Regions from separate parts of the Homo sapiens genome. Here regions 1, 2 and 4 are each reported to be linked to region 3. Evidence: microRNA targets listed by miRTarBase, many of them from high-throughput screens and not tested one by one. Region 3 holds a microRNA gene; each other region holds the end of a gene's coding sequence.

Region 1 (6,142 bases), not on the chromosome of region 3:
TCCCAGAAGGGAATCTGAAAGTCAGCTAATCACCAGCCTGTTTGTGAGGAAGAGCCAGTAAGAACTCCGCCTTTGCACAGCAAATCTGTATCATCTATTCTTCTTTTTCCCTCCACTCAGGATCCCTACACCCAGCCAGCATGGGCATCAAGGAAAGCAGGCTGGTAAACTTCAGGGCAGAGATCCGCTTCTGAAGGCAGCTAGTAATGTCTCACCCAGCTAAGCCTTGCTACTAGGCAACAGCACTGCCTCACTCAAGAAATTATCAATCTGCATCAGGCCAGATGCAGTGGCTCACACCTGTAATCTCAACATTTGGGAGGCGGAGGCAGGCAGATCATTTGAGGCCAGGAGTTCGAGACCAGCCTGGCCAATATGGTGAAACCCTGTCTCTACTAAAAATACAGTAATTAGCCAGGTGTGGTGCATGCCTGTAGTCCCAGCTATCCGGAAGGCTGAGCCAGGAGAATTGCTTGAACCTGGGTGGCAGAGGTTGCAGTGAGCCTAGATCGCACCACTGCACTCCAACCTGGGTGACAGAGCAAGACTCTGTCTCAAAAGTCACTAGTGTGCATGAGACACAGAAGCTTTGACAAAAATTCAAACAGCCATGGAGAAATACCGATGGTCTACAGAAGCAGTGCTTAGTCCTTGCTAGAATTCTCTAGTTTTGAAACATGGGAATAAGTAGAACTGCCAATGTGTCTGATGAGTAACTGTGGTATTTATTGCAACTGAGCTCTAGAAAGAGGCTACTGTTGTCTATGATCTGTCCTTTCCCCAACCACCCAGGCATCTCTTTGTCCACTCCAGTGATGTCTGCAGACCACCCTAATGTCACCTCAAGAGGGGTGAACCAACCTTCCACTGGCCAGCATAATAGCCTTGGAGTTTCATCTCAGATTTCATAGTGAATTCGGCTTTCAGGGCAGGATTTAGTTTGGGATGAAAAAGTGTTTCCATTAAGTATTGTATTTGAATCCTGGGTTCTTCAATGATTGAGGAAGACTAATAAAGAAAAGTTTACAAATAATCACATGAACTAAATTAGGACTTCAAAAGTTTAATGAAGTGAAATAATCTCTACTTATCTCTATTTCTTTTCCCAATTTATTCACAATCTATATACATAAAAACTCCTTTGGGTTGTCTACATCAAAAACAAGAATTTCTGTAGTAAGCAAACTATATGCATATTCTTTGTATTAATAAAATATTTTTGTCAATGTAGTGTTTACATTGTTTATATTACAAAGTTTCCAACATTAACTAAATTCTGATAAACTTTCTTCTTGTACTGGAGATACATGATATGCAACATTAAATATTGGTGTCCTAGAGATAAGAGCCACACACCTTGTATGCTGTAGAGTTAAAGGCAAGTACCTAGATCCTCAATCTTCTCATAGCCTCATTACCCCCCAAAAAAGCTGTCATTAGAGCTAGGGAATCTCTCCGGACACAAGGGAATCTGTGGTAACAAAGAATGTAGACCCATGTTGCCAGTCTTGAGTATCTCAGGTGAGGTGCCAGTCCACTTCTGAAACAATGCTTTGCCTCTTATGCCTGTGGAGAAACTATTCCACTTCTTCATTTTTTTCATTTAGAATCATATCATTTCAGTCTTTTTCTTCTTACTTCAATTTTGGTTCTTGTAGCATAGTCTTTTCTGGTAACTACTGTAAAGTTAATGCTGCAAAAGCCTATTTAATCATTCTAATAAAAACCTTAACAGATCCAAAACGATTCTGGGATGTACACAGCGAAGTTAATTCTGCAGCACTGCTCCACACCAAGAATGTATTTTGCCCATTATCTGTCATCTGAGGGATGCCCTCACCTTTGATCTTGACATCAGATTCCAACAGGCAAAGATACATTTTGGTAACAGCTATGTACATATACAAAATATGTATATATTTTGGTAACAGCTACTCCGTTAATACATGTCTTCTAGCATTCCATTCATTTGGATTTATGAGTTCATCAATCCACCTTGTGTCATTAATCTACTTTGTTTAAATTACCCTCCTTAGTACCCATTTTTTTAGCAATGTTCTACTCCAAAACTACTGGTTTGAAATATAGTAGCACATCCTTTCAAAAAGATTTGTTTTTTAGATTCAAAGGGATAGAACAAGATGAAATTTATTTTTTACTCAGAATTTTTCTGAAAAACCACAGGGGTGTTTTACAATGCTTTTTAAGATCGAGATTAAGAAAGGTACTAAGCCAAAGATCATTTATATAATCATTTATATAATTAAATCCAGATTAGTTCAAACAATCGGCATATATTAAATACTCAAAGGGCAGATGGAGCAATCCTTATCTGAAATGCCTGGAACCAGAAGTGTTTTTAGCATTTTCCAGACTTTAGAATACTTGCATTATACTTATCAGTTCAGCATCCCTAATCCAAAAATCAGAAATGCCCTAATGAGCATTCAAATTATGGAGCATTTCTGATTTTAGATTTTTTGATTAGGGATGCTCAACTTGTACTCTATGCTTAGGATTTGCTTCTCTCAACTTTATGAAAAACAAAATGTAGGCCAGGTGTGGTGTAGGCTCACAACTATGATCCCAGCACTTTGGAATGTAGGCTTACACATGTAATCCCAGCACTTTGAGAGGTTGACGCAAGAGGATTGCCTGAAGTCGGCGTTTGAGACCGGACTGGGCAACATAGCAAGGCCCTATCTCTACAAAAACTAAAAAAACTTAGCTGGGCGTGGTATCTGTAGTCCTAGCTACTTGGGAAGCTGAGGTGGGAGGATCACTTGAGCCCTGAAGTTTGAGGTTGCAGTGAGCTGTGATTGCACCACTGCACTCCAGCCTGGGTGACAGAGCAAGACCCTGTCTCTTAAAAGTAGTAATAATTACACTTTATAATAGCCTCCAGCACTTTGTCAGATGTACAATTAAGCAATCTTTCATGCTTTGTTGTTAAAAAAAAAAAAAGACATTTATTCAGTATCATGATCAGATTATTAAAACATTTAGCAATCAACAGCATGGGTACAAAACAAAACAATCTACACTGAAACCCTGTGTTGGAATGCTTTACTTTCCACAGAACAGAAACTATTATACAATTAGTCACAAATACAGTCATCAAGTTCTGTGATCGTGGTGGCTTTGGTGGCAGCCATGGTGGTGGTGATGGATATGGTGGCAGTGGGGATTGCTATAATAGATTTGGTAATGATTGAAGCAATTTTGGAGGTGGTAAAAGCTACAATGATTTTGGCAATGACAACAATCAGTCTTCAAATTTTGGACCCATGAAGGGAGGAAACTTTGGAGGCAGAAGCTCTGGGCCCTATGGTGGTAGAGGCCAATACTTTGCCAAACCACGATACCAAGGTGGCTAAGGCAGTTCCAGTAGCAGTAGTGGTTAAGGCAGTTCCAGTAGCAGTAGTAGCTGTGGCACTGACAGAAGATTTTAATTACTGCCAGGAAACAAAAGCTTAGCGGGAGAGGAAAGCCAGAGAAGTGACAGGGAAGTGACAGGTTAAAACAGATTTGTGAACTTGGCCAAACACAGTGGTGGCAGGGCCTAGCTGGTTCATGCTTTTTTTTCAAGTGAGTTTCCCTTCACACAGTTTCCATTTGAGTCCCTAAGCTCTCAGGGCTACCACTATACTTGATTCATTTTGCATTTCCACTGTGTATCTCCCTCCCAGTTTCTCCTCCTCTTGAAAACATCACTTTTGTGACCTCCGTAAGTTTTCTTCAGCCTTACATTTTTTCAATTTCTTCCAAACTGAGGTGATAACTCTTACAAATTCTTTTTCCTTTCATAAGTAACCATTCCTCATGCATGTATTAGACCTTTAACTGTTAAGAATCTAACATAGTATTTAAAAAGTTAATTTTGAGGTAGCACTAAATTCAAATTACTTTACAATTTGCCATAAATACTGCGTTTTGCTTGACATTAACAGCAGCAATTCCACATTTCAAGAAATTAAGCAGTATTAGTAATACTGCAGGTATCAAAATTTTTTTTTTAAATCTTCAATTACATGTGGGCAGATGAAAACAACTACTAATAGAAATTTAAGGGAAAGATATCCAATTAAGGGAAATGTGTCCTAAAGGAAAAAGTGAATAAAAATTGAGAAAACAATTAAAGAAATGGAAAGAAAAGACCACTTTACGGATTATAAAAGTTATATTTATTCACGATGCTACATTTATTGCATTCCCTTAGAAAAATGGAGAACTGTTTATGTACCCAATCTGCACATATAAAATTTTATACAAATTATGTGTAGCACATAAAGGCCTCTGGTACAGCTAAAATCCTGACACTATAATTTGGGTATTCCTGCTTTAGGGTCTCCAGTTTATCAGGTCTGTCCATAGAAAACAGAAACTGGAATTATAGTCAGTCTTGCTAACACTTAGAAACTACTTTAAAATACAATAAAATTTTCATTTACCCTAAAAGTCCAAATGGGAGGGGATATATTTTGTTACCAATTTCAATGTAACAGTATGACAAATTCACACCTCATTTTGGCTGGGCTTTCAAAATTAAAAAAAAAAAATCACCTTAGTTCTGACATTATCTAAGTTGTGGCTGCTTCAGAAGGTCATATGACAAAATATTTACCAAATAATTAAAAATAATAATAATAATATTCCTTTTACAAAATGGTACAGTAATACCTTAAGGAACCGGAAAATACTAAATGTCTTTGGCTATACAACTAAAAGGCCATTCTTTCAAAAGAATAGGGCATATTCATTTCAGAATCAACTAAAAAAAACAGAAAGCATAACAGAAATATGCATAGAATTTAAGTATACTTTGTCTTGCCTTCTTTTCCCATTCTACCCACATAAGCAAGGAGAATGCAATTTATATAATCTTTCCAGATGAGACTCAATAGCACTACAAAGAAAATACCCAAATTTCTGCAAAGGCAAAGTGAATTAAAATAATTACACAACTAGGTGAAGACTGAAAGGGACAAATGTTATTTGCAATTTTCTTTTTAACTTGTTTTTAAGCCTTACAAGTGTAGAAATTATAGCTAATAAACAAAAAGTCACAATCTTCACAAATGGAACTACAATAGAAAAATAAATCAAATGAAACACTTAGTAATAAATGAAGCCTATTTTATTACTTCAAGTGTTAATGATAAAAAAATTTCAGCACAGCTGTTGCATTTAAAAAAGTGAAACTACATACTATGTTTCTAGCTCAGTAAACAGATGAACCTGATGTCTTTAAATGACATAACAATTGAGCATTGTACAGTACATCTTATGAAGACCCGTAAATTAAAGAACTACTGGTTTAAAGTTAGTGATTATGAAACAAAAACATATTCATAGTTTCAGCTTCTTTTTTCTTCCTCGACCATCAGGTGCGCCATCCATTTTACGTTTCTGTGTCTACAAACAGACAGAAGGATTACTTTTCACAAGACTAATATAAACATGAAATATAGTTGCAGACACATTATAACACTTTAGTAATAACAACTACTACAAAGTAATAGGTATGAGACTTTTCCCCCAGGCTATATAAATCTTTCAAAGCAAACTATAAAGCCTCCAAATAATCTTACCTACTTATTTTACTTACAGAATAAAAAATGTTAATGTTAATAATGACGTTATAAAACTAATGCACAATTAACAGTAGTAGATCAATATCAAATAAATGCAAGCTTCCCAAAATAGTAAGAAACACTTGAGTTTTTAAAAGGCAGTTACATAAGTACCAAATATTATCCAGAGATACTCATTTATTCATGACTTTATAAATTAACCATTTTTTATTAAATTAACTATTATTAAATAACATTTTTTCCCTTTAAGTGTTTGCCTTCACATTGCTAAAACATCACTGAAATAATCAAAGCTTAGAGACTAACAGTAAAAGTCATAATACCACTGCTTTTCCAATGTTTCTTAAATTATTCTAAAATTATAACTTGTATTCTCAATGAGATGTGTACACACTTGACATTTACGAGACATACTTTCCTGATTTTCACGAAGCCCCATATTAAGGACTACCATATCATCAAGAAGTGATTTTTCCCACACAACCCAGTCAAGCTAAATTTGTACTTTTTAAGTATTTCAAGGAAGTCCTAGCTACAGCAATCAGACG
Region 2 (6,142 bases), not on the chromosome of region 3:
CAAAGGATTCTACCAGTGTTTAAAAACTCATTTTAAAGAAATATAATAATTTTGACATAAGCCTAATCAGCTGAGTGAGGTGGCTCATGCCTGTAATCCCAGTACTTTGGGAGGCCGAGGTGGGAGGGGATCACTTGAACCCAGGAGTTTGAGACCACCCTGGGCAACATGGGGAAACCCCGTCTCTACAAAAAAATACAAAAATTAGCCAGGTGTGATGGCACATGCCTGTGGTCTCAGCTACTTAGGAGACTGAGGTGGGAAGGATCGGTTGAGCCTGGGAGGTTGAAGCTACAGTGAGCCATGATCGTGCCACTGCATTCCTGCCTGGGAGACAGCAAGACCTTGTCTCAAAAAAAATTCTCCTCTCTAACTTCTGTCTTTCTAAACATGGAAGATGTATTTGAACATCTAGAGAGGAGCTGTTATAAAATAAAACACTTTAAAAATTAATTGCTCAGACCCAAGTATACATTATCCATTTTCTTTTTTCGAGATGGAGTTTCGCTCTTGTTGCCCAGGCTGGAGTGCAGTGGGGCAATCTTGGCTCACCGCAACCTCTGCCTCCCAGGTTCAAGCAATTCTCCTGCCTCAGCCTCCCGAGTAGCTGGGATTACAGGCATGCGTCCCCACACCTGGCTAATTTTGTATTTTTAGTAGAGTTTCTCCATGTTGGTCAGGCTGGTCTTGAACTCCTGACCTCAGGTGATCCATCCACCTCAACCTCCCAAAGTGCTGGGATTACAGACGTGAGCCACCGCATCCAGCCTCCATTTTCTTATTTAAGACTTACTGACTTGTCTAAGATCTCTTCCTGCTAAGTTATTTCAATGATATCTTCTTATAGGATTCTTATGGGAATTTTAGTAGTTTCATTGCAGATCAATAATGGGACCACGTTTTGGGGGAGTGAAGGGTGGGGAGCTGGGAATAAGACTATACATAATCAGAATTTTTGATTTTGCAGATTGCTCTAGAGACATGTTCTGATTTCAGTTGAGCTATTTCAGTTCCATATTTTTGAAGCTGATCCTTCGTTTCAGCCAAAATAGTAGATACAAATCAATGACGTTGTTAAACCTTTTTCTGAATTATTTTATTGCTTTGTAATTTACAAGATTCTTGACATTAGTGGTAGTGTTCACATTTAAGCTGTTATAACAGCCTTCTAATGGTAGACTTTTCTAAGTTTTATTAATTGAAAATGCCCACAAAATGATTATTTTACTGATTCACTTGTAATTCCCCCTTCCTTTGACAGGATATCTATAGAGAAATGGGGTTTGGTCACTATGAAGAAGAAGAAAGCTGTTGGGAGAAACAAAAGAGTGAAAAGAGAGACCGAACTCAGAACCGAAGTCGTAGCCGATCTCGAGAGAGGGATGGCCATTATAGTAATAGTCATAAATCAAAATACCAAACAGATCTTTATGAAAGAGAAAGGAGTAAAAAGAGAGACCGAAGCAGAAGTCCAAAGAAGTCCAAAGATAAAGAAAAATCTAAGTATAGATGAAAGATGAAGAGGCAGAATTGAGAGGCTAACATATTTACTCTTGTCTAACTTAAGAGTGCCAGGAAAGCAGATGCTTAGATTTTGTGTCAAAGCTTGTTATTTTTTTCATACTAGGATTATGGTCTTTAGATTAATACTGATTATATAGAGCACGGAAAGATAAAGAATTGAACATTTTCTTTGTATACTTTTTTACACTAATTTTATTGTTATACATAAATGGTAGTCTTCATTTTTGAAGTCTTACATTTTCACTCTTTTTTTAATGAAGTATTTCATACTACAAAAATACATAAACGTATATATAAAGGGATAATAAATGTAAATATCTGTGTACTCATCAGCCAGCTTAAGATACAGATGTTGTCGACATTTTAGAAGTTCCCTAAGGCCCTCTCCCTCTCAAATAATTATTTGGAATTTTGTGTTTGTCATTTGTCTATTATAGTTTTACAACATACGTATGTATCTGTAAGTGAAATGTTAATTTTGTATGTTTCTGAATTTTATATAAATGGCAAAATGTTTACTTCTGTGACTTTCTTTCATTTTTATTGCTATATAGTATTATATAAATATACTACAACTTATTCATTCTTGATGGACATTTGAGTTTTGTTTATTTGTTTTTGCTGTTGAAACAATGCTGCTGTGAACATTGTATCTAGCAGTTATATTGCTTGATATATTGATAAAATAATGCCAAATTTGTGTTCTGAAGTGACTGTACTAGTTTATACCTCTCTTGGCACTGTGAGTTACCTTTGTTTCATAGCATCTCCAACACTTAAGTTCAGACTTAAAAATTTGCCAACCTAGTGGATGTTAAGTGGTATCTACCTGTGATTTCCAGCAAGATTACTGTTATCTCTGCTCTTCCATGTGTAAGATGTCATTTTTTTCCTGGCTGCTTTTAAGGTTTTCTGTCACTGGTTGTAAGAAGTTTGATTATGATGTGCTTGCTGTAGTTTTTTTTTCACGTTTCTGCTGCTGCAGCTATTTTACCTGTGGGTTTATGGTTTTCATAGAATTTGGAAATTGGGGGGCATTTTTTCTTCTGTTATGGTTTTCTCTCTGCTCCTCTCATGCTTCTCCTGGGGCTCTGATGACTTGGATGTACGTTAGGCCCCTCAGAATTTTCTCCCAGTGTGCTGATTCTGTGCAGCTTTTTAAAAAGCCTTTTTCTCTCTGTGTTTCATGTTGGGTACTTTCCAGTGCTGTGTCCTCATTGTTTATTAATCTTTCTGTCTAAAGTATCTAATTTCCTTTTAATCGTATCCAGGTATTTTTCACCTCCGACATATTTTTAGTCTTTAGAATTTCTGTCTGGGTCTTTATCTCCCATGTGTCTCCTTCACATGCTCATGCCTTCCTCTATTTTTTTTTTTTTCAACATCTGGAGTGTATTGATAATAGCTCTTTCAGTGTGCTTGCCCATTCTGTCATCTGCATCATTTCTGGTCTGTTTCTATTGATTGATTCCCACCCTACCCCAACCCCCACCCTGCCCATATTGGATTGTAACTTCCTTCATTACATGCCTGGTAATTTCTGTTTTTAATATTGGGTGCTGGAGTTCTTTTAAGTATCTTGAACTCTGTTTGGGGACATAAAGTTACTTGGAAACAATCCGATCATTTTATAGCTTGCTTTTAAGCTTAATAAGACAGGACTGGGACAGCCTTTAGTTTAGGGCTAATTTGACCCACTACGAAGGTAATACCGTTCTGAATAATCTTCCTGGTTACACGGTTTCTGCATTCTGTCTGTTGGGAACATGAAATATTCTGAACCCTATTGAGCTCCCAGTTGTATCTCCTGTTCCTTACCTCACATGCATACACTGCTTGGTGTTTAGCTGAAGACTTAAGGGAAACCCAATATTCTGCCCTGCAAATCTTACCTTGGCTCCCCTAAATTCTCTACCCAGGGAGGTTCCCTTCCCTAGCCTTAGTGCCACAGCTTAGAAACCCCATGTAGAAGCTTGCGCAATTATAGGGCTTTCTTTGTTTTCCATCTCTCAGGAGTCACTGTCCTGCACTGGCTTTTGTCTAACATCTGAAAAACTTCCTTGTATACATTTTATATAGGTTTTAATTTAAGGTGGAGAAGGTAAATCGTGCCTCTGCTACTCCATTTTGACTAGAGTGGAAGTTAACTTTGTATTTCCTAAATGTTAATGAGGCTGAGCATCTTTTCCCATGTTTATTATTCATTCCTTATTGCTCTCTGAAAAGCTTGTTTCATGTCTTTTGCCCATTTATATAGTAGTAGATTGTTGTCTTTTTATACTTAATAGATTGTGGATACTAAGAATAAGTTAAGGAGTGCTGTCTCTCTCTCCTTCCCTCTGTCTGTTCTCTTGGAAGAAAAGAAAAACATTTAAATTAATCTGTTCCTTAAAAGCTGGATAGAGCTTGCCTATAAAATTGTCTGAACTTTGCATTTTTTTGTGAGAAAATTTCTTAACTATTGATTAGGTTTCAAAAATTATAGAATTATTAGCCTTTCTATTTCTTTAATGTTAGTCATTTTTATTACATTTTTCTGGGAATTTGTTTTCATTGACGTTTTTATTTTTTGATAGCATTGCGCATAGTTTAGCTAGATTTTTCTATCCTGCTTTGTTGATGAATGTCCTTATGTTTTAGTGTGTCTCATAAACAGCATATAGCTAGATGATGATGATGATGATTATTATTACTATTTTGAGACGGAGTCTCACTCTGTCACCCAGGCTGGAGTGCAGTGGCGCAATCTCAGCTTACTGCAACCTCCACCTCCTGGGTTCAAGCGATTCTACTGCCTCAGCCTCCTGAGTAGCTGGGACTACAGGTGCTTGCCACCAGGCCTGGCTAATTTTTTTTTCTTTTTTTTAGTAACAGGGTTTTCACCATATTGGCCAGGCTGGTCTGGAACTCCTGACCTTCTGATCTGCCCACCTCAGCCTCCCAAAGTGCTGGGGTTACAGGTATGAGCCACTGCACCCGGCCAATTATTTTTAAATCTAATCTGAACTTTAACTGGTTAGTTGAGTGCATTTTTATGTGTACTGATGTATTTGCATTTATTCCTTACCACCTTATTTTGTGCTTTTTATGTTTTTTTCTTCCACTCTTTTTTTTTCTTTTGGAATCAAAAATGTTTTTTAATTCCACCCTCACCCCTCTGCCCCCTCTTCTTTGTTTTGGGGGAATTTCCTTGGAATATTACATCCGTACTTAAAAAGTATAATGTTATATCTTTATCTTCCTCTCTAATTGAGAGTCTTGGAACTCTCCAAGTCACCCCTCTTGCAACTTTCGTGTTAAAATCATTCAGTATTTTAGTTATAGCTTGTGATTTTTCACCTTAAAATTAGACCTTGAGCTGGACTCAGTGGTGCACACCTGTAGTTCTGGCTCCTGAATGGCTGAGGCCGGAGGATCCCTTGAGGCCAGGAGTTAGAGGCTGCAGTGCACTGCGATTGTGCCTGTGACTAGCCTCTGTACTCCAGCCTGGGCAACATAGTGAGACACCATCTGTTAGAAAAAAAATTAGACCTTGTGATTATTACTGTTTTTGTACAGATAATTGTTGGTTTAGATTTACTTTATATGTTAGAAGTGTTTGTTTATTCATTATTATTCTCACATCTCAGACCTTTCACCTAGGATAATTTTCCTTCTTTCTGAAGCACATCTTTTGATGTTCCTCTAGTGACATCTGTTGATGGCAAACTCTTAGTTTACATTTATCAAAAGTATTTTCAATTCATTCTATAAAGTTGATTTTATATGTACATAATTCTAAGTTGAGGTGTGTCTTTTTTTCCCCCAGTACTTTGAAGAATTAGTCTACTATCTTTTTACTTTTGTTACTACTGGGGAGAAATCTTTTGTCATTCCAAATGTCATTCTTTTGGATATAATGTGACTTTTCTTTCTGATTGCTTTTTTGCTGTGGTTAAACTTTCAATTTTGAAATCAGTTGTAGATTGGCATGCAATCATAAGAAATAATACAGAGAGAACCTGTGTACCCTTTGCCTAGTTTCTTCCAGTGATACCATCTTGTAAGATTCTAGTATGGTATCACAACCAAGATGCTGACATGGACACAGTGGAGATACAGAAAATTTCCATCACTACAAGGACCCCTCTTGCTGTCCTTTTATAGCCACGTCTACTTCCCTGCCACTTCTGTTTTCTCCTTCACCTCTGTCAACCACTGATATGTTCTCCATTCCTATAATTATGTCATTTCAAGGATTTTATATAAGTGGAATTCTGTATTATGTAGCCTTTTGGGGAGCCACTCATAATCCGGAAATACATAATCCCAAATGCCATGATCATGAAGGTTGAAACCCTGATAATCATAATCCCAAATATGTAATTCTGGAAAGAATAATTTTAAAAACCTTTAAAAGATATTTATTTACATTTTGTTTGTTTGTTTGTTTTGAGATGGAGTCTTACTCTGTTGCCCAGGCTGTAGTGCAGTGGCACAGTCTCAGCTCACTGCAACATCTACCTCCCAGGTTCGAGTGATTCTCCTGCCTCAGCCTCCCAAGTAGCTGGGACTACAGGTGTGCGCCACCATGCCCGGCTAATTTTTGTATTTTTAGTAGAGATGGGGTTTCACCATG
Region 3 (6,142 bases):
ATCTCGGCTCACTGCAAGCTCCGCCTCCCGGGTTCACACCATTCTCCTGCCTCAGCCTCCCGAGTAGCTGGGACTATAGGCGCCCACCACCACACCCGGCTAATTTTTTGTATTTTTAGTAGAGACGGAATTTCACCGTGTTAGTCAGGATGGTCTTGATCTCTTGACCTCGTGATCCGCCTGCCTCGGACTCCCAAAGTGCTGGGATTACAGGCGTGAGCCACTGCGCCCGGCCTAATTTTTTTTTTTTTTTTTTTTTCAGTAGAAAAGGGGTTTCACTATGTTGGTCAGGCTGGTCTTGAACTCCCGACCTCATGATCTGCCCACCTCGGCTTCCCAAAGTGCTGGGATTACAGGCATGATCCACCGCGCCCGGCATGGCTTCATCCTTTCAACACCTCTAAAAGGTAGGTATTATTATCCCCATTTTATAGATAAGGTAACTGAAGCTTAGAGAAGTTAGAAGACTTCTCAAATAAGCCAGTAAATGGAGCAGCCAGAATTCAAACCAAATAGTCCATCTCTAGTAGCCATGCTATTAACCACTCCCATCCACCAGTTCATTTGAGAGGAAATACCTCTTATTGGACTGGTCACAGATAAGGACAGAAGTATTCAAGTTTATATAAACCTGATTTTTAATCCCAGCTCTGCCACTTACTAGTTGTTTGACCTTGGGCAAGTTATTTAATCTCTCTGAGAGTCAGTCTCTATCCAATGAAAGGCGATAATAGTATCAGGATTAAAATATGCTCAAAAATTTATAGGACAGTGCCTAATGATCTCTGTTCTTAATATCAGACTTGATATAGGAGGTCAGAGGGAAGAAAACCCCACAGGAGCCCTGATGGGAAATCTGTGATCCCATCCCCAGCCTATAATCCCAGCTTCACCTGGAAAAAGTCCTGGGAAAACCCGCCAAGCAACAAAGCCCTCTTACCAATCTTCATCTGGAAATTGTTGAAGGAGTGCTCATTGATGTGCTTCATCTGCTCCATGAGCCGCATGGCGTAGTCAGCCAGGGCAGTGATGTGGGAGCGGCCCACCTGATCGTAGGTGCTGGCGTTCAGCCCTGAGGCAGCCATGTAGGTGCTACCAATCGTCTTGATCTTTTCCAGCTGCCGGAACCGCTCCTCGCTGATAATCTGAACAACACAAGGAGACCTGGCTGTCAAGGCAAAGACCCCAGACCCAGCCCTGCCCCAACACTCATTTCTTGCCACGCCTTGGCTGCCTTCCCCACTTCCCTGTCTCAAGAGCCCCCTTCCAGCTGCTGCTATCAGTGTAAGACTGAGGAGCTGGGAAAACAGGCAGCCTAGGACTCCAGGCAGGACTTGGGCATACAGCTTCAGAAGGTCCCTCCAGTAGCTCACTCACAGAACACAGACCCACAAGTGCAATATTAAGCAATTTCTCCAATCCTTACCTTTTGGGATACTGAGTCCCAGAGTGAGCAAGTGACTTCCCTCCAGAACAGTGAACAGCCCATTCCTGATCTGGATGTTCAGGACACTACCTCACATTTTGCTTCAATTTTCTCTATTCAGAGGACCATCTTGCTTGGTTGGTCTCATGAGGTTCTGTCCACAGACTATTGCCTTCTTCTTCAGTGACATCCACCTGGTACCTATCCTATCCCCCTACAGATCAAGTCCTCCCCTGCTCCCCAACAGTGATGACCCTGCCCCACTAGGGCTGACCCCCTTGCTGCCTCTGACACCTTCATGGGTTCTTGCCTCTGCCTCCACTGTGCATACCCTTACCCCTGATGACTCTGGGTCCCATCAAATCTCTCTCTCTCTTCCCAGTTCCACTCACCCATTCCAATCCCTGGTCTCCAAGTACCCCCCACTCTCTGCCACCACCAGCCAACTGGAAAAGTACCTCATCAAAGTCAGCGATGATCTCGTTGAGCAGCCGCAGGCACTCGACACCCTCATTGTTTGCCTCCAGCTCCACATAGAACTCAGAGAAGTTGGCAATGGAGGCAAACATAACAGCCACACACTCACACGACTGATAGTAGAGTTCATCATTGCGGCGCTCCCGGGCCAGGAAGTGGGCCGCCACGTCCTTGGGCAGAATGTTATGCAGCAGCCTCCGGTTGTATGCCTGTAGCTCCTCCATCTCCTCCTTCTCCCCTGTTGCCTGTGGACACCACACCCATCACCCATTGCCCGACATTCACAAGGGGTAGGTGTGGTGGCCAAGGCTTGGAAGTGCGGATAAGAGGGAATCACATAGAGAAAGAAAGGCCCAGACAGATGAGGCCTAAAGAACAGGCAAAGGGGTAAAGGGGGCAGGTAGAGGATGGGGCAGGGAGTAAGGGATGGGCACAGAGAAGGAATGGAACCAGGGTGGGCCTAGGTGTGGCCTGAGCCTTAGCCAGCTAGCACAAGATACATTTCTGGCCTGGCCCAGGCTCCGCCCCTAGGTTCCTCCTCTTCCCCCAAAGGCCCACACAGTCACCTGTAGTTTCCAGAGGAAGTCTAGGCGGGCAGTCGACTCCACCTGCTGAGCATGCAGATACAGCGCCAGCGCAAACACCAGCAGAATCACAGGGGTCATATATTTGAGGGCCACCCTCCCTGCAGCTGGACTAAGGATAAGCAGAGACATGCTTGGTGTCTGAAGGAGGCATCTAATGGCTCTACCCTTTGCTGCCTCGGAGCCCTCACTTACCAGTCCAGCCCATCAAAGGTCTCATTGGAAGAAGCCCTGGTAAGAAGATAGAAGAGACAAAGTCATCAGTGCTTCCTGGATTGCTGGGTGGGCACATGGAAGGGGAGACAAGAGACTGCATTTACTGAGCACATACTGTAAGTCAGGCATTGGGCCAGGGCTTTTACTTACATTAATTAACTCATTAAGAGTAGAGGTTAAGAAAACCTCTGCTCTTAGAGACTCCTCTACTTACCAGCTATGTGACCTGAGACAAGTCGCTTAACTCTCTAAGCCTCCTTCCTCATCAGTACAACAGGGATCAGATCTAAATAATGTATGTAAAAGGCTTAGCACAGTGCCTGCCATATAGTCAGCCTTCCATAAATGTTAGTTACTATAATCTTTACAACTACCCTGTGATTTAGGTGACATTGCCATTTTACAGATGAAGAAATTGAGGCTCAGAGAAGCTAACTCACCTGTCTAAAGTCACACAGCTAATGAGCAGCAGAGCAGGGATTCAAACCCAGCAGAGACCAGAGGCTTTTTCTACTACAACAAGCTATGGCCACATATCAAAGGAATGGGGTTTTGCAGAGGAAAAGCCAGTGTGGTGTCCCAGGCAAAGCCCCCAAGCAGGAATCAGAAGCTTTGGTTCCTAACCAGAGCCCTGCCACCAAGCAGCTGTATGTCCTATAGGTGGTTAAGATGGTGGATGTGAAAGCACCATGCAAATGTAAGAGGGAATTTTTTTTTTTAATGTCTAGCCTAAAGACACAAGGATTTCCCAGGACTAGGGTTTCCTTGGGGGTAACTATTTGGGGTCACATGCTGGGAGCTCCTCCATCTCCTCCCTTTCCCCCACAGGGGTGTTGTGGCATTCCAAGGCACAAGGGGCATGGGCACCAGAGAGGCTCACAGTGACCTAGAAAGGTGAGGGAAGCTCCTGGGGTATTAAAGGACCTGAGAATAAACTCACAAGCCATGGACGCCAAGCAGTAGGTCATAGTTGTCAAAGATGGTGGCTGGGGGACCCAGCAGAAGCAGCACCAAATAGATGAGCCCCAAGACAAAGATCATGGCCAACTTCCCGATGCTGCTGATGTGCAGGAAGACAGAGCTGGCCAAGAGACTCAGCAGCATGTTCCCGATGAAGTACTGCGGGGGTGGCAGAGGCAGCGTTGGGTGAAGGCAGAGGCCACAGCACCCTTGGGCAGGGAGAGCCCTGCACTCTCCTGCCTGACCTAACCTTCCCACCACACCCCTCAAACCCCCATATCCTCCACCTTCCATGCCCAGCCCCTACAACACACCAGGGCCCCTGGTTGCTCCTAGTGTGGGAGACTCTGGTGAGTTCCTGGGTCCCCAGCGCCCATCACCAGGCCTGGCACAGAAGGGCCAATGTCTGTGCCAGGACAGCCCCCCCACCGCCTGAGCACTGCTCGAACACCTCAGGAAAGCTGCAGGTGGGCATGGTGCCCTCACACAGGGGAGCATCCAGGCCCAGAGAGTAATTGAGCTGCTGCAGGTGGCAGGCAGTGATGTCAGCAGGTGTTAAATTCAGCATCCGGGCTGCACAGCTCCGTATGGGGGTGTGGTTACAGGTGAACTGCAAAAGTGGAGGGGTATATCAGGGTAACCAAGGAGGGAAAGGGTTGCAAGGTACCTGGTGAAGCCATGTACCCTAACCTGGGCTATGCCCAGGTACCTTATACCCCATGGGCCTTAGTACTCACTCAGGGATGACAAGAGGTTGGGAGAACAAGGAAGGAGAACCGGAGTTAACCTTCCCCTATTCTGGGAGGGGGCTCCCTGAGGGCAGAAAATATGTCCTTTTCTCCGCTGTACTCCCAGTGTCCAGGACAGTGCTTGGCACAGAGCAGAGGTGGGAGAATTCCCACTGGACCCTTACCATGTTGGCAATGGCAGAAGTAAACACAAGCAGGACGGAAAAGATGCCAACTGCGGTGCTATGTGCCCGTGAGCGGACAATGCTGCGGGACAGACGTTGCAGGGCCTTAGGGAACAGCTAGAGGCATCAAGAGACCAAGAGTTGAAGGTTGTATCAGCCAAGGAGGAATGGCAACCAGGGATGGGGCCCAGTGGAAGAGGCATGGCCTTCTCCCTCTCCCCATGTGACCTCCTCCCTGTCTGGAGTCCAGCCTGCCCTCCCCAACAGCCTCAGAAATCCCCTTACGTACAGAACCACAGGAGTACACAGCACAGATCAGCACGGTGATTAGCAGCAGCAGGAAGATGCTGGCATAGATCCCAAGCATCAGGGTGGAGCTGGGGCAGAACAGGGCCAGAAAAATCATTTAATTCTGGAAGATCTGGGCATTCTTGTCCCACCCTCTGGAACAAGCAGGGATGCAGGCTCCAGGGATTGTGGGCTTGTGTGGGTATTTAGGAAGCTTCTGGGAAGTGGTGAAGAGAGAAGCTAAGAGAGGAAAGGCAGGGCTCTCACTGTGGGAAGATGAGAAGCTGGATGAAGCAGATGAAGCAGAAGACCAACAGGGCACAGGCAACGTAGGCTCCGAAGCGGGGATCCACCTTCCGGGAGTACTGAGGGAGAGGAGGCTGAGCTGAGTGCTGGGCCCTCCCTAAGGAAGGCAGGGACAGCAAGGACAGGGCACTACCAGGGGTCTCAACAGGGAGGAGATGCAGTTGGCTCAACTGATGAAATCCTCACCCTGCTCTGTGGTCCCTTCTCCATCCCCCAGAAACACCTGTGCCCTCACCTGTGCTCAGCCTTCCCTGCTGCGACCTGCCCCTCCCCCAGCCCTTGTCCTTCTGCCCTGTATCCCTCAAACCTTCTTCTCAAGATCCTCTCTCTGGAAGGTGAGCAGAAACCGGCGCACATGGTCCTTCCGCAGCTGATCAATGCTGCGGGCATCGATGGCACGGCTCAGGAACTCATCCACCTCATCCTCAGGGTTCAGGGCATCTTGGGTGCCCCGGCTGAGGGCAGGAGACATGGTTTCACCAGTTGCATGGGCATGGCCATGTGAGAAACAATGAAAGGAAAGGTATGGACAGCACCTGAGGGAGGGAGGGAGAGCCAGGGGGGTGGCTCCTGCTCCCACACAACACTCCTAAGGTCAGGGAAAAGGAGGATCTCGGCTCCCCCCAGCCCCATCCCAGGGTGCAAGTGCCTTCTCCCTCCTCAGTAACCTGACTTACTTGTCTTTGCTGGAATCATCAATGCCCTGGAGAAAGGGACAGAGTGTGGAGTGAGGTGAAGGGCCAACAACCTTCATCTCTGCAGCTCCTTCCCCCACCCCAACACTGTGCTGAGGGTGTCCCCGTCATATCCTCTGGGGGCACTGGGACCCGAGATGAAATCTTCTCACTGCCCCAATACCAGAAAGCATACATGGAAATGGCAGTCACAAGAAAGGACAGGGTCAGGGACAGGGTATTGAGGGAGCTAAGAAAATGAGGCCCTAGGTCTGGTGCTGAGGGCCCCTCACCATCT
Region 4 (6,142 bases), not on the chromosome of region 3:
CCTAAGTCATCTATATAAGCGAATCTAATAAATACAATAAAATGTAACCCAACAAAATTCTCATGTCACTTTTTACAGACATGGGTATATGAGAACCATGGAGGTGCTAAAGAAAAATAGAAGCATTTTCTTATTATCATATTACCATGAAATTAAATTTATGTCTGTTCTAAGGAAAGAAACTAAATGTCCTGTTTGATATTGATGAGTAGGCCTACTCATTCTCTACCAAAATCCTAAAAAAAATAAAAATAAAATTTCACTTAAAAAATAATTTCCTAGGAGGGCACAGTGCTGTAATCCCAGCAATTTGGGAGGCCGAGGCAGGTGGATCACGAGGTCAAGAGATCGAGACCATCCTGGCCAATATGGTGAAACCCTGTCTCTACTAAAAATACAAAAATTAGCCGGGCGTGGTGGCATGCACGAGTAGTCCCAGCTACTCCAGAGGCTGAGGCAGGAGAATCGCTTAAACCCAGGAGGCAGAGGTTGCAGTGAGCCAAGATCGCGCCACTGCACTCCAGCCTGGCGACAGAGCGAGACTCTGTCTCAAGAAAAAAAAAAAATTCCATCTTTTAGATTATGTGCTAATAATTCTCTTTTAAGTGTTGGAACAGGGGAAAGTTCACATTATAGAGTACAAAGGATCAAAATGGATCCCTCCAAAATGGACATCCCCCCAGAAAAATGCTTATAACTTTGAAACACTTAAGACATACAAAGATCTGGCCAGGTGCGGTGGCTCATGCCTGTAATCCCAGCACTTTGGGAGGCCGAGGTGGGTGGATCACTTGAGGTCAGGAGTTCGAGACCAGCCTGGCCAATATGGCAAAACCCCATCTCTACTAAAAATACAAAAAAATTAGCCGGGCACGGTGGCGGACGCCTGTAATTCCAGCTACTCGGGAGGCTGAGGCAGGAGAATGGCGTGAACCCAGGAGGCGCAGCTTGCAGTGAGCCGAGATCGTGCCACTGCACTCCAGCCTGGGTGACAGAGAGAGACTCCTTCTCAAAAAAAAAAAAGAAAAAAAAATACAAAAATTAGCCAGGGGTGGTGGCACGCGCCTGTAGTCCCAGCTACTCAGGAGGCTGAGGCAGAAGAATCGTTTGAACCCGGGAGGCAGAGGTTGCAGGGAGCCGAGACCGCACCACTGTACTCCAGCCTGTGTGACAGAGTGAGACTCCATCTCAAAAAAAAAAAAAAAGAAATACAAAATCTGTAACAAACGAACAGCTGATGGAGAACAGGACAGCATTTACTTCTGAATCTATAAAGTACTTAAGAACTTATACTTGTGGAAAATCACAATGACAATGAATATTTCACCAAATAGATGGTGGCAAATAGTTTGGCAACACATATTAGAAAGGTGATTTCTATACTACACATAAATGAAAGACAAACCGAACCACAATTGATGTTTTACTACATTAATGTAATTTACACTATGCCTATACCCACATGGCAAATTCAGTTATAACTGAAAAACTAGAGCAGTCCCTTTTTTTTTACTATGATTTGCATATTTTCCAGTATCCTAATACATGCATACTTATCTTTTATAGATTATAATAATCTACATTTAAAATTCCATTTTAATATTGTGGCATGAAAAATACAAACACCAATACAGTATGTTTTATGCTTACTCAAAGTTAACTGGCTCAGAGTTTTAAAAGCTTTCCCGGATAAAGCAGAGTCAAGTCTACCCTATATCCCCATCCTATAAATTCCTCTTTGTCGAACCTGGCAATCTCAGTGAGCTATGATTGCACCACTGCACTTCAGCCTGGACAACAAAGTGAGACTCTGTAACTATAAAAAACAAAAACAGACAAACTTGGCTATCTACCTCAATCCATCAATCACCCTCATGCCTTTGAACTTGACAACATCACTCCTCATCTTAGTTTTTAAAGTAAAAGATAGGAATAGTAATGTAAAGCATTCAAAACAAAAATGAAACCTGCATATTTGTTTATTTATTTATCTGAGATGGAGTTTTTGCTCTGCTGTCCAGGCTGGAGTGCAATGGCGCGATCTCGACTCACTGCAACCTCCGCCTCCCAGGTTCAAGCAATTCTCCTTCCTCAGCCTCCCCAGTAGCTGGGATTACAGGCACCCACCACCACGCCTGGCTAATTTTTGCATTTTTTGGTCAAGATGAGGTTTCACCATGTTGGCCAGGCTGGTCTCTAACTCTTGACCTCAGGTGATCCACCTGCCTTGGCCTCCCAAAGTGCTAGGATTACAGGCTTGAGCCACCGCGCCTGGCTGAAACCTGCATCTTCAGAATGTCATTTTTGTGCGTTAGTTTTCCTTTGCCTGTTGGTTTGGAAATTCTCCATGTTCCTAAAGGTAGCTTCCACATTTCTGTTCCAAGAACTGATTAGAAAAAGCAAGATGGTTTCCCGCTTTAGTTGCCTCCCTTTGGTTCCTCACCTCTCAGACAACAAACAGAATGTTAACAGTCTTTCCTGTGATGTTTTTCCTTCTTTCACCTAACTTCCCTTGAAAAAAAAAATCAAAATATTTATTTAGCACTTTTTTCAAAGGGCAATTCCTGATTAATATAGGCAGAAAAACTCAAGATTTATCTTCTTCCATTTCCAAAAAGGTAAGAAGATGTAAATATTTATATTGGGCCCTCTCCCTCCTCATACATTTTTACCCAAAGCTTAAAGAAAAAAAAAAAAGTCAACTCAAAACACAGTTGAAGGTATATACTACATCAACTTTTTCTTTTGTTTCTGCCACAGAATTCCATGTCATTCTTAAGATTCAGTATTTTTCTCACATCCTATTACTTTATATACAAATTGCCATATAGCAATTTTTAACCTATTTCCTCATCTGCTGATAATCACTGGGTCTCCACTATAAGAAAATTGCCCCTAGTTTGTCAAGAGTCCTTAAAAATAACGTATCAATAATTTAAAACTGGTGAAAGAGCTATGCAAGATTGTTCCCTTTAATTTTATATTACTCTAAAATATACATATGTACACATACTCACACATATAACAAATTTACATAGTTTGCAGAAATAAACTACGGAAATAATTCCAAATACACATTTAGAAATTCACATTTTAACAGCAAACTTACATGCAGATAAAGAGAAGTATAGTTTTATACTTCCTAAGTTACACAGCAAGCTGAAATGGAGAATGTTTTAATGGTCATTTTAGATTTATTCTTTCTCCTAAGTCTTAGAAAATGAGCAAAAAGGAGACATAAAACTCAAGCTATGTCTATAGCAGTATCAGTCAATGTGGTATTATTTTTATTAACAAATTATTCAATTGCTTACTCTATACAAAAAGTGATATACACATACTATAATACTATATGCAAAACACAAAATAGCGTTAGAGATAACAAATGAGAACTTCATACAAAATACTTGATTCCATCAGTATTTAACTTTTGACCGGAAGACTCAGCCTGTGCATTCTTTTCTGATATTAAGGAATAGTCACATTTTTACAGTATTCTTAACTACAGAAAAATAGGAATAAATGGAGGGGAGGGCTGATGAGACAGCTGAAATACACATTTATAAATATGTATACAATTTAGTAATGTCACATCATCTGAATTAATTTCTTTTCTTTCTTTTTTTTTTTTTTTTTGAGATGGAGTTTTTCGCTCTTGCTGCCCAGGCTGGAGTGCAATGGCATGATCTCAGCTCACTGCAACCCCCATCTCCTGGGTTCAAGTGATTCCTCTTTCCTCAGCCTCCCGAGTAGCTGGGATTACAGGTGTCTGCCACCACGCCCAGCCAATTTTTTTTTTTTTTTTTTTTTTTTTTTTGGATTTTTACTAGAGACAGGGTTTCACCATGTTGGCCAGGCTGGTCTTGAATTCCTGACCTCAGATGATCTACCCACCTTGGCCTCTCAAAGTGCTGGGATTACAGGCATGAGCCACTGTGCCTGGCCAAATTAATTTCTTTTGCATGGTTGCTTTCACCAGTAAGTGGTCCAGAATACAAAATATGGTAACAGAGAACTGTTTTCATACTTATTCCTTGGTACAGTTATTAAAAATAAAAACTCGCATTTTAGGATTAGGGAAGTCTGGAAAAAAATTTTTTTAAACTTGGAGATCACATATTGAATAGCTGTCAAAATTCAAACTGACTAGTTTTGAAGAACTTCAAAAACGTGTTCAAATGAATAAAGAACAAAAATGATCAAAAGAAACCCATAGCTGCCTAAGAGTCTTAAAAATTATTAATGTGACACTCTCATCTCTCATCAAGTGTATCCAAACCACTTCTCATTTGCTCTTTCCATTTAAAGACTCACAGTAGCTTCACTACACATATATTTATACTGAACATGTACAGCGGAACATAAATATGATGAGCATTTATGAAAAAACTACTATCTAAGTGGTTTACACTGACTTGTGCGCTGATCTAGTGAGTTAGGAGACCTTTTTGATCTTATCAGTTTCTTGACATGCTCAGTGAAAAACTGTTGCACAGAAACTCTAAGTCCCAGCTGGTAATCAGGCCCATCGTCCACTGGAGGCAAAGCTTCTGCTGAATGAGAAGTTGATTTCAGAGTTCTTATATTTTCCCCAGGCACCAAAAGGCACTACTACTGCAGTACTGTTATCCTCAGTACCGTACTGTATTGCCTGCAAGGTTTGGCAGGAAGAAAGAGAAAAACATTGGAAATCACAGTCTATACAAAGAGAAATCAGCCTTTCCTTCCCTTGGAAATACGCTTCCCCTAGAAAGCCAAACTGGTCTTATGTGCAGTTACTAACCTACTTATTTCACAATGGTTTGTGATTTTCACCCTGTATTAATGCCCACAAGGATTATTAAATTGCACACGGAATAACAGATGACCCAAAACAACCATATTAACTATATTCTGCTGTAGCAATTTTGGCAACAGAAACACCAGTGGACTAAGGGGCATTGGTATGCAGCTCCTGAAAATGAAGATACCTGTAAAGCATTCAGCGTAGGGAGTAACACACGGTGAGGACTTGATAATTGTTAGCTCTTACCAGGAATTCAATTCCCTTTAGGGAAATTTACCCTAATGGAATAAAAACCTTGGAAATTGAAAGACAAAAAAACTAGCCATAATCGTAAGAGAAATACAAATGGCTAATAAGCCTATGCAAATAGCTAACTCCACCAACAAAGAAAAAAGATAAAAATTTCTACACTAAAATTTGATTTTTCCATCTATCGAATTGGTAAGAAAAAAAAATATGGTAAGAATTTGGAAAAACAAACTGTAGAACATGCTAGTGTAAATTGGTATAGTATTTCTGGAGGATAATTTGGCAAACTTATTAAAAGCTCTAGAACATTGTGTATTCTTTCATCTAGAAATTTTATTTATTTATTGAGACAGGGTCTTATTCTGTCACCCAGGCTGGAGTGCAGTGGCACGATCTCGGCTCACTGCAGCCTTGACCTCCCAGACCCAGGTGATCTTCCTACCTTAGCCTTCTAAGTAGCTGACACCACAGGCATGTACCACCATGCCCAGCTAAGTAAAAAAAATATTTTTTTTTGTACAGACTGGGTCTCGCCATGTTGCCCAAGCTGGTCTTGAACTCCTGGGCTCAGGCAATCTTCCCATCTCAGCCTCCCAAAGTGCTGGCATTACAGGTCTAAGCCACCAAACCTGGCCTAAAGATTGTATTTCTAAGGGCTCAAGCAATCCTCCCACCTCATCCTCCCTCATAGCTGGGACTATACATGCATGCCACCACACCTGGATACTATTCCTAAGAATGAAACCTATTTCCTGAAGGAAACAGATATGCACAAATAGACATCAGAATGTTTATTACTGGGCTTCCTCTATAGAATGGAAAAAATAAACATAAACTAAATTTCTTGACCAGAGGAACTGTTAAATGAATTATGTATAAGAATAAAATGGAACACTATGCATTCATTACAAATTTCATTACCTTTGTGAATTAGAATGCAAATATCTGCAAGACAGGCAGCTGAAATTAGGAAAGAAGTGTTCATCCATGAAATTGGGCCTATTTCCTCAATTTCATGAATACCCTGTTTAGCACGGGTGAAGGCAGTAACCAAATGAATAATTCATATATTATAATCATGTTTGCCCATCTAAGCAAATAATACTT

What was found. The annotated mature microRNA hsa-miR-4701-3p reads AUGGGUGAUGGGUGUGGUGU and lies in region 3 at 2,155-2,174, opposite strand. An mRNA with a match to its seed (bases 2 to 7 or 8) in the 3' UTR can be bound and repressed. Matches are read on the target gene's strand: a 7mer-m8 pairs with bases 2 to 8, a 7mer-A1 pairs with bases 2 to 7 and ends in A, and an 8mer does both.
Region 1: the mRNA of SMARCA5 is a reported target of hsa-miR-4701-3p. Seed matches in the 3' UTR shown: 7mer-m8 at 2,841-2,847.
Region 2: miRTarBase lists PPIL4 as a target of hsa-miR-4701-3p. The part of its 3' UTR that is shown has no 7-base or 8-base seed match.
Region 4: the mRNA of PPM1K is a reported target of hsa-miR-4701-3p. Seed matches in the 3' UTR shown: 7mer-m8 at 986-992.

The regions. Positions count from the first base shown.
Region 1 is chr4:143,552,392-143,558,533 of GRCh38, reverse strand. It overlaps SMARCA5 (SNF2 related chromatin remodeling ATPase 5), which reads right to left. Exons shown (of 24, transcript NM_003601.4): 24 at 1,048-5,415. The coding sequence ends at 5,350. Among named protein-coding and RNA genes, the nearest start is that of SMARCA5-AS1, 41 kb to the right of the region's middle.
Region 2 is chr6:149,500,824-149,506,965 of GRCh38, reverse strand. It overlaps PPIL4 (peptidylprolyl isomerase like 4), which reads left to right. Exons shown (of 13, transcript NM_139126.4): 13 at 1,262-2,471. The coding sequence ends at 1,513. Among named protein-coding and RNA genes, the nearest start is that of ZC3H12D, 19 kb to the right of the region's middle.
Region 3 is chr12:48,769,826-48,775,967 of GRCh38, forward strand. It overlaps MIR4701 (microRNA 4701), which reads right to left and starts at 2,212; the gene lies at 2,150-2,212. ADCY6 (adenylate cyclase 6) reads right to left here. Exons shown (of 22, transcript NM_015270.5): 9 at 6,138-6,142; 10 at 5,848-5,873; 11 at 5,478-5,625; 12 at 5,132-5,229; 13 at 4,866-4,953; 14 at 4,577-4,693; 15 at 4,115-4,273; 16 at 3,644-3,822; 17 at 2,683-2,718; 18 at 2,470-2,599; 19 at 1,885-2,148; 20 at 941-1,145. It also overlaps a transcript of SPMIP11 not described here.
Region 4 is chr4:88,258,076-88,264,217 of GRCh38, forward strand. PPM1K (protein phosphatase, Mg2+/Mn2+ dependent 1K) reads right to left here. Exons shown (of 7, transcript NM_152542.5): 7 at 1-4,651. The coding sequence ends at 4,520. Among named protein-coding and RNA genes, the nearest start is that of PPM1K, 23 kb to the right of the region's middle.